Linked DNA regions of Homo sapiens: region 2 is linked to region 1. Evidence: fine-mapped expression QTL. A gene starts in region 1. The other region holds a variant in brackets. All regions are shown on one strand. Distances are between the middles of the regions. Region 1 holds the start of THRAP3 (thyroid hormone receptor associated protein 3). Region 2 overlaps THRAP3 (thyroid hormone receptor associated protein 3).

Region 1 (4,387 bases):
GGAACTGAACCTGCAATATTTGAGATATGCCTGTATTTCTTTTTTTCTTTTCTTTTTTTTTGAGACGGAGTCTTGCTCTGTCGCCCAGGCTGGAGTGCAGTGGCATGATCTCGGCTCACTGCAACCTCCACCTCCTGGGTTCAAGCGATTCTCCTGTCTCAGCCTCCTGAGTAGCTGGGATTACAGGTGCCCACCACCACGCCCGGCTAATCTGTAGTATTTTTAGTAGAGAACGGGTTTCGCCATGTTGGCTGGGCTGATCACGAACTCCTGACCTCAGGTGAGCTGCCCGCCTCGGTTCTCCCAAAGCGTTGGGATTACCGGCGTGAGCCACCGCGCCCGGCCTATGCCTGTATTTCTTAAAAGGGGAGCCAAAATTATGTATTTTGGTATCCATCTAGTTTACTACCGTGTTCCCAGTATTTTACACTGGGCATTGTATACAGTAGACACCCAGAAAATCTTTGAATTTAAAATTACATTGGTTCAGCCCCGTGGCTCACGCCTGTAATCCCAGCACTTTGGAAGGCCGAGGCAGGTGGATCACTTGAGGTCAGGAGTCTGATACCAGCTTGGCCAACGTGGCGAAACCCCGTCTCCACAAAAAGTAGAAAAATTAGCCGGGTGGTGGCATATGCCCGTAAAATCAGCTACTCAGGAGGCTTAGGCAGGAGAATCGCTTGAACCTGGGAGGCAGATGTTGCAGTGACCCAAAATCGCACCACTGCCCTCCAGCCTGGGCGACATAGGGAGAATCTCAATAAATAAATAAATAAATAAATAAAAATAAAATCAATTAAATTAGAACGTTTTAAGAAGCACTGCGCAGTACGTCGACCACAAGAAGTGCTCAAAGAAGGAAGAAAGAGTAAGCCGTGTGCAAGGAATGCTGCCGAAGCCACTAAGGGCAAGGGCTGATGTGGCGTGGTCTGCTACTTGAGTTGAGCCTTGCAGCTTTTCTCTTAGGAAGAGCATTAGATTTCTTTATTAATTGATGTGTACTGTGTCTACTTTTCTCTGGAGGTGCAGAAATCCATCAAAACTGATCTCGGCTCTCAAAGAGCTCACAGTCTTGTCGGGGAAGGCCCCGATACTTACAGAGTAAGATGCAAACTTACTGTGGGAACACAGGCATAGGGAGGAGCTAGTCAACTTTGAAAGCATCACAGATGACCTATGAGATGGGTCTTAAATGTTCAGAGACACTAGAGCAGAAATTCCGGAGGAAACCAGCCTGTGCAAAACTGATAAACGCAGAGATTCTCAAATTTGTAGGTGGGTAAGAATCACCCGAGAGATCGGTTTAAAATGTAGACTGCAGGGAGACACTCCCCGGTAAACTTTTGGTTCAATACCCCAGTAGCACCCATTTTAACAAACTTCCCAGGACGACAGTCAGAAAATCATAGTTACAGAAGGCAGGCTGGGGAGAGGCGGTTTCTGGGTCTCCGAATGAGGTCACACAATTAAAATTAAAAAAACGAAACCAAACCAACCCCTCCATTTGCGTTGCGCTTTCAGGGTGCTTGAGGCTTTCCTGTGCCTTACTTTGTCGGAGCCTGGCAACATCGCTGTGGGGTAGAAATTACAAGTCTCATTTCACAGGGGAGGAAACAAGTTTAGAGAGGAGGGATGAATTTGCTCAAGGTCACAAAGCGGAAGGGAGCGCAGCAGAGACCAAAAACAGGGAGACTCGACTTCCAACTCGGAAGCTTTTCAACAAGGCAAGCTGGCCCGGAGTGGGTGGGGCTCAGACTCTCCCTCCAGGCTGGTTCCAAAATGGTGGGGGCAGTGGCGTCAGCAACGCCCCCGCCCCTTCCGTCCACCGCCCTCCTCCATCTCCAGGCCACCCAGGCGGGGGGAGGGGACGGCCCCGAGCAACCCACGTGACCGCCGACAACCGAGCGCGTGACGCAAAGCGGCGGGCCCAACGCTCGCCTTGTCTTTTGGGAAACGTAGTTCTGATGGCAGCCAAGTCGGCCAGGAGAGGAGGGCGTAGGACTACATTTCCCAGGAGGCAGCGGGTCTACGCCGTCGCCGTCGTCGGAGAGCGGAGACGCTGGGCGCGCTGTGGGGCGGGGGCGAGGTTCGGGCTGGTTGTTCCGTTGCGAGCTGCAGCTGCGATCTCTGTGGTAGGCCCAGGTGAGTGAGCGCCTCTGATGGAAGTTAGGGCAGCTTAACCGGCTCTAGTGGTTTCGTCTCTTATCTTTTTTCCCCAGCTGCTGGTCAGGGGCTCGGGGAAGGCCTGGCGTGGAGTCGCTCCCCCCAGCTTACACCCTGGCCTCTTCTGAGCGGGCTCCGTTCCCTCCGGCTCCTCCCCTTCCCCGCCCTTTAGGTCTTCCCCTGGCCCCGGCCTAGCTCCCAAGGCTCTTGGTCGCCTTCTCTGCAGAGCAGCTCCTACGCCGCTTTATCTTGCAGTCGGCCTGGGGGCGGCCACTCCCTACTCCTCCCGTTTTGGTCGTATGAACCCCGTTATTTGGATTTCTTTTCCCGGAACTCCCGAGTGCCCTTCCCCCCACCCAGTCCCCATTGGCCTGGTTCGGTCTTCTCCTAGGGCGCATGTGGCTGCCACTCAGTAAATGTTAGTACCGCTTCCGTTCTTTCCAGCCTGGTGGCCAAAAACGGGATAGTCCAAATTTGTCTCCTACGGGAATATTAGAGTTCTCACTTTTTTCTTGGGCTGGAGCTGAGGCCGGCTTGCATTCCAGTGGCAATCGGCGTGAGTTCTGCTTATATGAGGTGAATTATTTTGCTTCTCTTAGCACCTAAGCAACTTTTATCAACTGTTGTCTTTGACTTTACAAATCTTAGGGGTGGAGCATGGCAGCAGAAGCTGGGGAGCAGCAATGGTGCACAGAAGTTGGAAGCCATCAGTGGCAGTACAGTGTTTATGGGGAATTTGTTACTTGGGGTGAAGGGAAAGCCTCTGAGAGTATAGAAGGACCTGGCAAGAGAGAGGCAGTGAAGCTTCTGTTGGGAGCATAACAGAAGTATCCTGAACCAGTTGGCTTGGGTTTAAATCTTGGCCCTGCTATCTTTTGATCTTAGGTCAAGAGTCTTCATCTCCAGCTGCCTCAGTTTTCTTATCACTAAAACAGCAGTAAGTAACAGTGACCCCTTTACAGGGTTATTGTGGAGACTAAATGAGATAAAATAAAAATCACTTAGCCACTGTTAAAAAGTAATATCATCATTTATAGGTTTTTTTTTTAGAGTGTGCGCCGAGAGAGATGAGGCGTGTATCACACCGTTATTTTTCTTCTGTTTCAGATGACCCTGACTTTTTTCGTTTGTGGAAGTACTGTTGTAGTCTGTTCTGTAATTCTAGACAGTCTGACGTGTGTATTATGATTTAGAAGCTTGTTAAATAGCCAAAACCGGCTCCTGCCATGAACAACTTGTGGAGCAAATCGGGCTCAGTTTGTTCTTTGCCGGGAGATGTATTTTGTGAGCCAATGTTCATACGTTAATGATAAGTTTTACTGCAGCCATTTGGGCTTAATTGCATTTTGTAAGAGAGTTGTGTTGAGGTTTCTGTAAGAAGTGATTTGATTAAAAACCTCTATATCCAGTGTAATTCCATCTCTTTGTTTTTTAAACGTTTTAACACCAGAGAAAGATCTCCAATTTTGGAGACTGATGTTTTTAGTTTTGTAGACTAGGTACAGTTCAATTTTAGCAGTGGTGATGGTAGTAGTAGTACCACCTTAGTGTATTTATTTAATACCAAATATATAGGTACTTTTAAATTTGGTTTAGCCTGCAAAATATGGATTACAAAAAGAGTGATCTATTTTGTTCCGAGGAATTGGAGGGAGGAAGCTTGGAATATTTCTGAGATTAGCACAGAGATGGGAAATGTTGATGACTGGGAGGGTACACAGACATACGATTTATTATTATTATTATTTTTTGAGACAAAGTCTCGCGCTGTCACCCAGGCTGGAGTGCAGGGGCACAATCTCGGCTCACTGCAACCTCCGCCTCCTGGGTTCAAGCGATTCTCCTGCTTCTGCCTCCTGAGTAGCTGGGATTACAGGTGTGTGTCACCACGCCTGGCTCATTTTTGTATTTGTAGTAGAGACGGGGTTTCACCATGTTGGCCAGGCTAGTCTTGAACTCCTGACTTCAGGGGATCACCTGCCTCGGCCTCCCAAAGTGCTGGGATTACAGGCGTAAGCCACCGCGCCCGGCCACGATTTATTATTTTTAGAATGGATAGTCCTAACCACTAAGCATTTTAGGGCGCTACCCTGTTTCTGTAGGGCATATTGACATCCTGAATGCAAGGAAGTCTGGTTAATGCTATTCTCTCAAATACAGGGTTTTGGTGGATTTTTTCACACATATTCTATAAACATCTAAGATCTGTTCACTGTTTGACTCT
Region 2 (4,387 bases), 33 kb after region 1:
TTGAAACAAGAACACATTAGTCCTCAAGTATTACATAAGCTTGCTTGTTACGCCTGGTGGTTTAAAGGACTATCTTTGGCCTCAGGTTCACAAGAGTGGGCAAAGTGTTTCCTTATGTTCTGTAGTTCTCAATAAAAGATTGCCAGGGGCCGGGTACTGTGGCTCGCACTGTAATCCCAGCACTTTGGGAGGCTGAGGCTGGCGGATCATGTGAGGGCAGGTGTTCGAAACCAGCCTGGGCAACATAGTGAGACCCTGTCTCTATTTAATTAAAAAAAAGAATGCCAGGCCAGGCGCGGTGGCTCATGCCTGTAATCCCAGCACTTTGGGAGGCTGAGGTGGGCGGATCATTTGAGGTCAGGAGCTTGAGACCAGCCTGGGTAACATGGTGAAACCCTGTCTCTACTAAAAATACAAAAAAAAAATAGCTGGGTGTGGTTGTGCATGCCTGTAATCCCAGCTACTAGGGAGGCTGAGGCAGGAGAATTGCTTGATCCCAGGAGACGGAGGTTGCAGTGAGCTGAGATTGCACCATTGCACTCCAGCCTGGGTGAGGGAGTGAGACTCTGTCTCAAAAAAAAAAAAAGAAAAGAAAGAAAGATTGCCAGGGGTACTTGAGGTGAGATAAGGAAAAAAAAATTCAGTCTTGTGTACCATAGGAGATACAAATGGTATGGTCCTAGAATGTTAGCGTTTACCCTTTGTTTGGATTTGGAAACTATATCGTCGTTTAAGGTCTACTAATGTGTGGAACATGGGAGCGTTCTGAGTGACACGCTGGTCTAAGGCACTGTTGTCCTTTATCTGGATCATTATTATTATTTTATTCTTTTTTGAGACAAGGTCTTGCTCTGTCACCTAGGCTGGAGTGCAGTAGTGTGAACATGGCTCATTGCAGCCTCTGTCTCTTGGGCTCAGGCAGTTCTCTTGCCTCAGCCTCCCATAATGTTGGGGTTATCGTTGTAAGCCACCACACCTGGCCTGCCTGGATTATTATTATTATTATTATTGTTATTATTGTTATTATTATTATTATTACTTTTTGAGATGGAGTCTTGCTCTGTCCCCCAGGCTGGAGTGCAGTGGCGCAATCTTGGCTCACTGCAACCTCTGCCTCCTGGGTTCACGCCATTCTCCTGCCTCAGCCTCCTGAGTAGCTGGGACTACAGGCGCCCGCCACCACGCCTGGCTAATTTTTTGTATTTTTAGTAGAGACGGGGTTTCACCATGTTAGCCAGGATGGTCTCCATCTCCTGACCTCGTGATCCGCCCGCCTCGGCCTCCCAAAGTGCTGGGATTACAGGCATGAGCCACTGCGCCCGACCCTGCCTGGATTATTTTGGGCATTATCTACTAATTTCTTCTATTTGTGACCCATTAAAATCTGTTCTCCACGCAGCAGCGAGCATGTATCATTGCAGTTTGTGGTATTTTGAAACATAATTATGCTCCTATTTTATGCTCTAAACACTCCAGTGGCTGCCCTCATTACCCAGAGGAAAACCAAAGTCCTTACTTTGATTGCAAGGCCCTGTCCATTCAGCTGTGTTTCTGACCTGATCTACCAACAGCTCATTGGTAACCGTTTGCATTGCAGACATTCTTTTTTTTTGAGACAAGAGTTTCGCTATTGTTGTCCAGGCTGGAGTGCAGTGGTGCGATCTCGGCTCACCACAACCTCTGCCTCCCAGGTTCAAGTGATTCTCCTGCCTCAGCCTCCTGAGTAGCTGGGATTACAGGCACCAGCCACCTCGCCAGGCTAATTTTTTGTGTTTTTAGTAAAGACGGGGTTTCTCCATGTT[G/C]GTCAGGCTGGTCTTGAACTCCCGACCTCAGGTGATCTGCCCGCCTCGGCCTCCCAAAGTGGTGGGATTACAGGTGTGAGCCACCGCGCTTGGCCAACATTGCAGACATTCTTATTTTTGTCTCTTCCTCAGACAGTCAGGCATGTTTCCTCCCCAGGGTCTTTGCATTTGCTGTTTCCTCAGATAAGGCCCAGTATACTCTTTTTCTTCCGTCTCTGCTCAGCTGTCTCATGAGAGAGGCCTTCCCTTAATGCGTGATATAAAATTGTATAACTTTTACTCCTCCAGGTGCCCTCATCTGCTCACTAGAATGTCAGTTCCAGGCATGAAGGGACTTTTAAATTATTGAACCTCCAGTGTTTAGAATAGTGCCTGGCATGTAGTCAGTACTTAATAAATTATTTGTTGAATAAGTGGACAATTAGTAATGTGTAGAAGGGAAGAGGGTCTATTGTGGAGTCTCCTTGCTAATACACTGCTGTTTGGCCAAAGGAGGTTCAGGAGATAGAGGCTGACAAGTATGCCTGTGGCTGGCCAGATGACATGCAGGACAGGCTAGGCAGGAGGAGGGCAACTGTGGTGGCAGGGGGTGACTCAGGGTTTCAGGTGTCTCTTCGCTGTCACAGAGTAACTAAAGGCCAGAGCCTCAGATTTGCTTATTCACTCATCGCAACAATGGGGAATTGAAGACTTGTTGGAATGATAAAATTCTTGCCAATATCCAAGAAGAGGTTAATTAATAGGAAATATGATGGAGTAATAAAATGGGAGATTTATGTGTGTGTACTTTTGCCATCTGGTTAGAATTAGAGGGAAAGATGGATGTATTGGAATAGATTGTGTTTTTTTGTTGTTTTGAGACAGAGTCTCGCTCTGTCACCCACGCTGGAGTGCAATGGCACGATCTCGGCACACTGCAACCTCTGCTTCCCGAGTTCAAGGGATTCTCCTGCCTCAGCCTCCCGAATAGCTGGGATTACAGCCATGTGCCACCATGCCCGGCTACTTTTTGTATTTTTAGTAGAGACATGGTTTCACCATGTTGTCCAGGCTGGTCTTGAACTCTGGACCTCGTGATCCGCCCGCCTCGGCCTCCCAAAGTGCTGGGATTACAGGCATGAGCCACCACGCCCGGCTTGGAATAGGTTGTTTTTTAAATTCAACATGTTACAGCATAAGAGCAGTTTGCAGTCCTGTAGCAGACATGGGATTTCCCTCACTAGCTAGGCAGAGCTGACTGATGTGAGCCCTCTGTGCCTCTGGAGTGAGGAATCAGGGGAAGAAGTTTTGGCTGATGTAACCTAGGCTGAATTAGAAGAATACATAGCGAGAAGACATGAAAAAGTATTTTGAGTGAGTTTTTTAAAGTGCTATATTTGTACTTACATTAATAAAGAAACACATACCGACATTGTTATTTGGTAAAGGATCTGAATACTAAGCCTCATCTGGATAAAACAGTATTATCCTGTTAGTAATTTTTTTTTTTCTTGAGGCGAAGTCTCACTCTGTCCCCCAGGCTGGAGTACAGTGGCGCGATCTCGGCTCACCGCAAGCTCCACCTCCTGGGTTCACGCCACTCTCCCACCTCAGCCTCCTGAGTAGCTGAGACTACAGGTGCCTGCTGCCACGCCTGGCTAATTTTGTTTTTGTATTTTTACTAGAGACGGGATTCCACCATATTAGCCAGGATGATCTCGATCTCCTGACCTCGTGATCCGCCCGCCTTGGCCTCCCAAAGTGCTGGGATTATAGGCGTGAGCCACTGCCCCTGTAATAAGAATAACAACAAAGTTTTGATAAGGCAGGAGTGAGGACATCTAATTACCTACATGAGCTTGCTGGTCTTGGAACTTGTTTTTCCTGTTTGTTTTGGAAAACGCTGGACATAGCTTTGATGTATGACCATGTTCATAGATCTGGGAATAGACAACTGGAGCAGAAGGGAATTTTTGTGCTTTTATGGGTAGGTACGGAGAGTTACTTTACCTTGAAATGCATTTGTTAAATTCATTTTAATATACTTCTGTTCATTGCTTTCTTATTTTAAACATCTGATTTTTGTCAGGTTCACCAGGTTGAGTTTTGTGGAGCTTGTGAATTAGTCTTGCATAATGAAAACCTTAGCACCTGAAATATTGCCAGTGAAAGTATCAGGTTACAGTAAGGAAGGCTTTTGCTTTCCATACTGTAGGAGGTTAGATGAATGAAAACCTGTCAGACAGAGGCAGACCATCTCATACTTTGAGAGAAAAGCTTGGGTCCTTTTGGAGTAAAGCTGAGGGCTAAAGTAGGGTTTGTGTTTATAGATTTTGAGCATCAGTAACAGAATCTGCATTTGGGTAGCCATTTTATCACTACTTATTTTCTCTCATTTCAGAAGTGTATGCTGACTTGTAAAGTGAAGAAGCCAGTGGTGCTGCGGGTGTTCTTTTGGGGTAGTGTCTGGGATCCAGTACGAGTTGAATCATTGTTCAAATAAGGTAAAAGCATGGTGGTAAAAGAAACTAATAACTTCACTAATTTGTAAAACCAATCTTACGTTAAGAATTGATTATTTCGAGACCAGCCTATGCAACATGGTG

What was found. PIP is the estimated chance that this variant, and not a neighbour inherited with it, causes the effect.
Region 2: its variant is the best candidate, but not a certain one, in a credible set for the expression of THRAP3 in whole blood (TOPMed, PIP 0.71).

Annotation. Positions count from the first base shown.
Region 1 is chr1:36,222,364-36,226,750 of GRCh38, forward strand. THRAP3 (thyroid hormone receptor associated protein 3) reads left to right here and starts at 2,080. Exons shown (of 12, transcript NM_005119.4): 1 at 2,080-2,142. RefSeq lists enhancers at 877-1,046, 1,257-1,556, 1,470-1,997, 1,957-2,166, 1,998-2,526 and a silencer at 1,707-1,826.
Region 2 is chr1:36,255,200-36,259,586 of GRCh38, forward strand. It overlaps THRAP3 (thyroid hormone receptor associated protein 3), which reads left to right. Exons shown (of 12, transcript NM_005119.4): 2 at 4,183-4,285. Among named protein-coding and RNA genes, the nearest start is that of THRAP3, 33 kb to the left of the region's middle. RefSeq lists a silencer at 2,411-2,470. The variant G/C (reference allele first, on the strand shown) is at 1,803.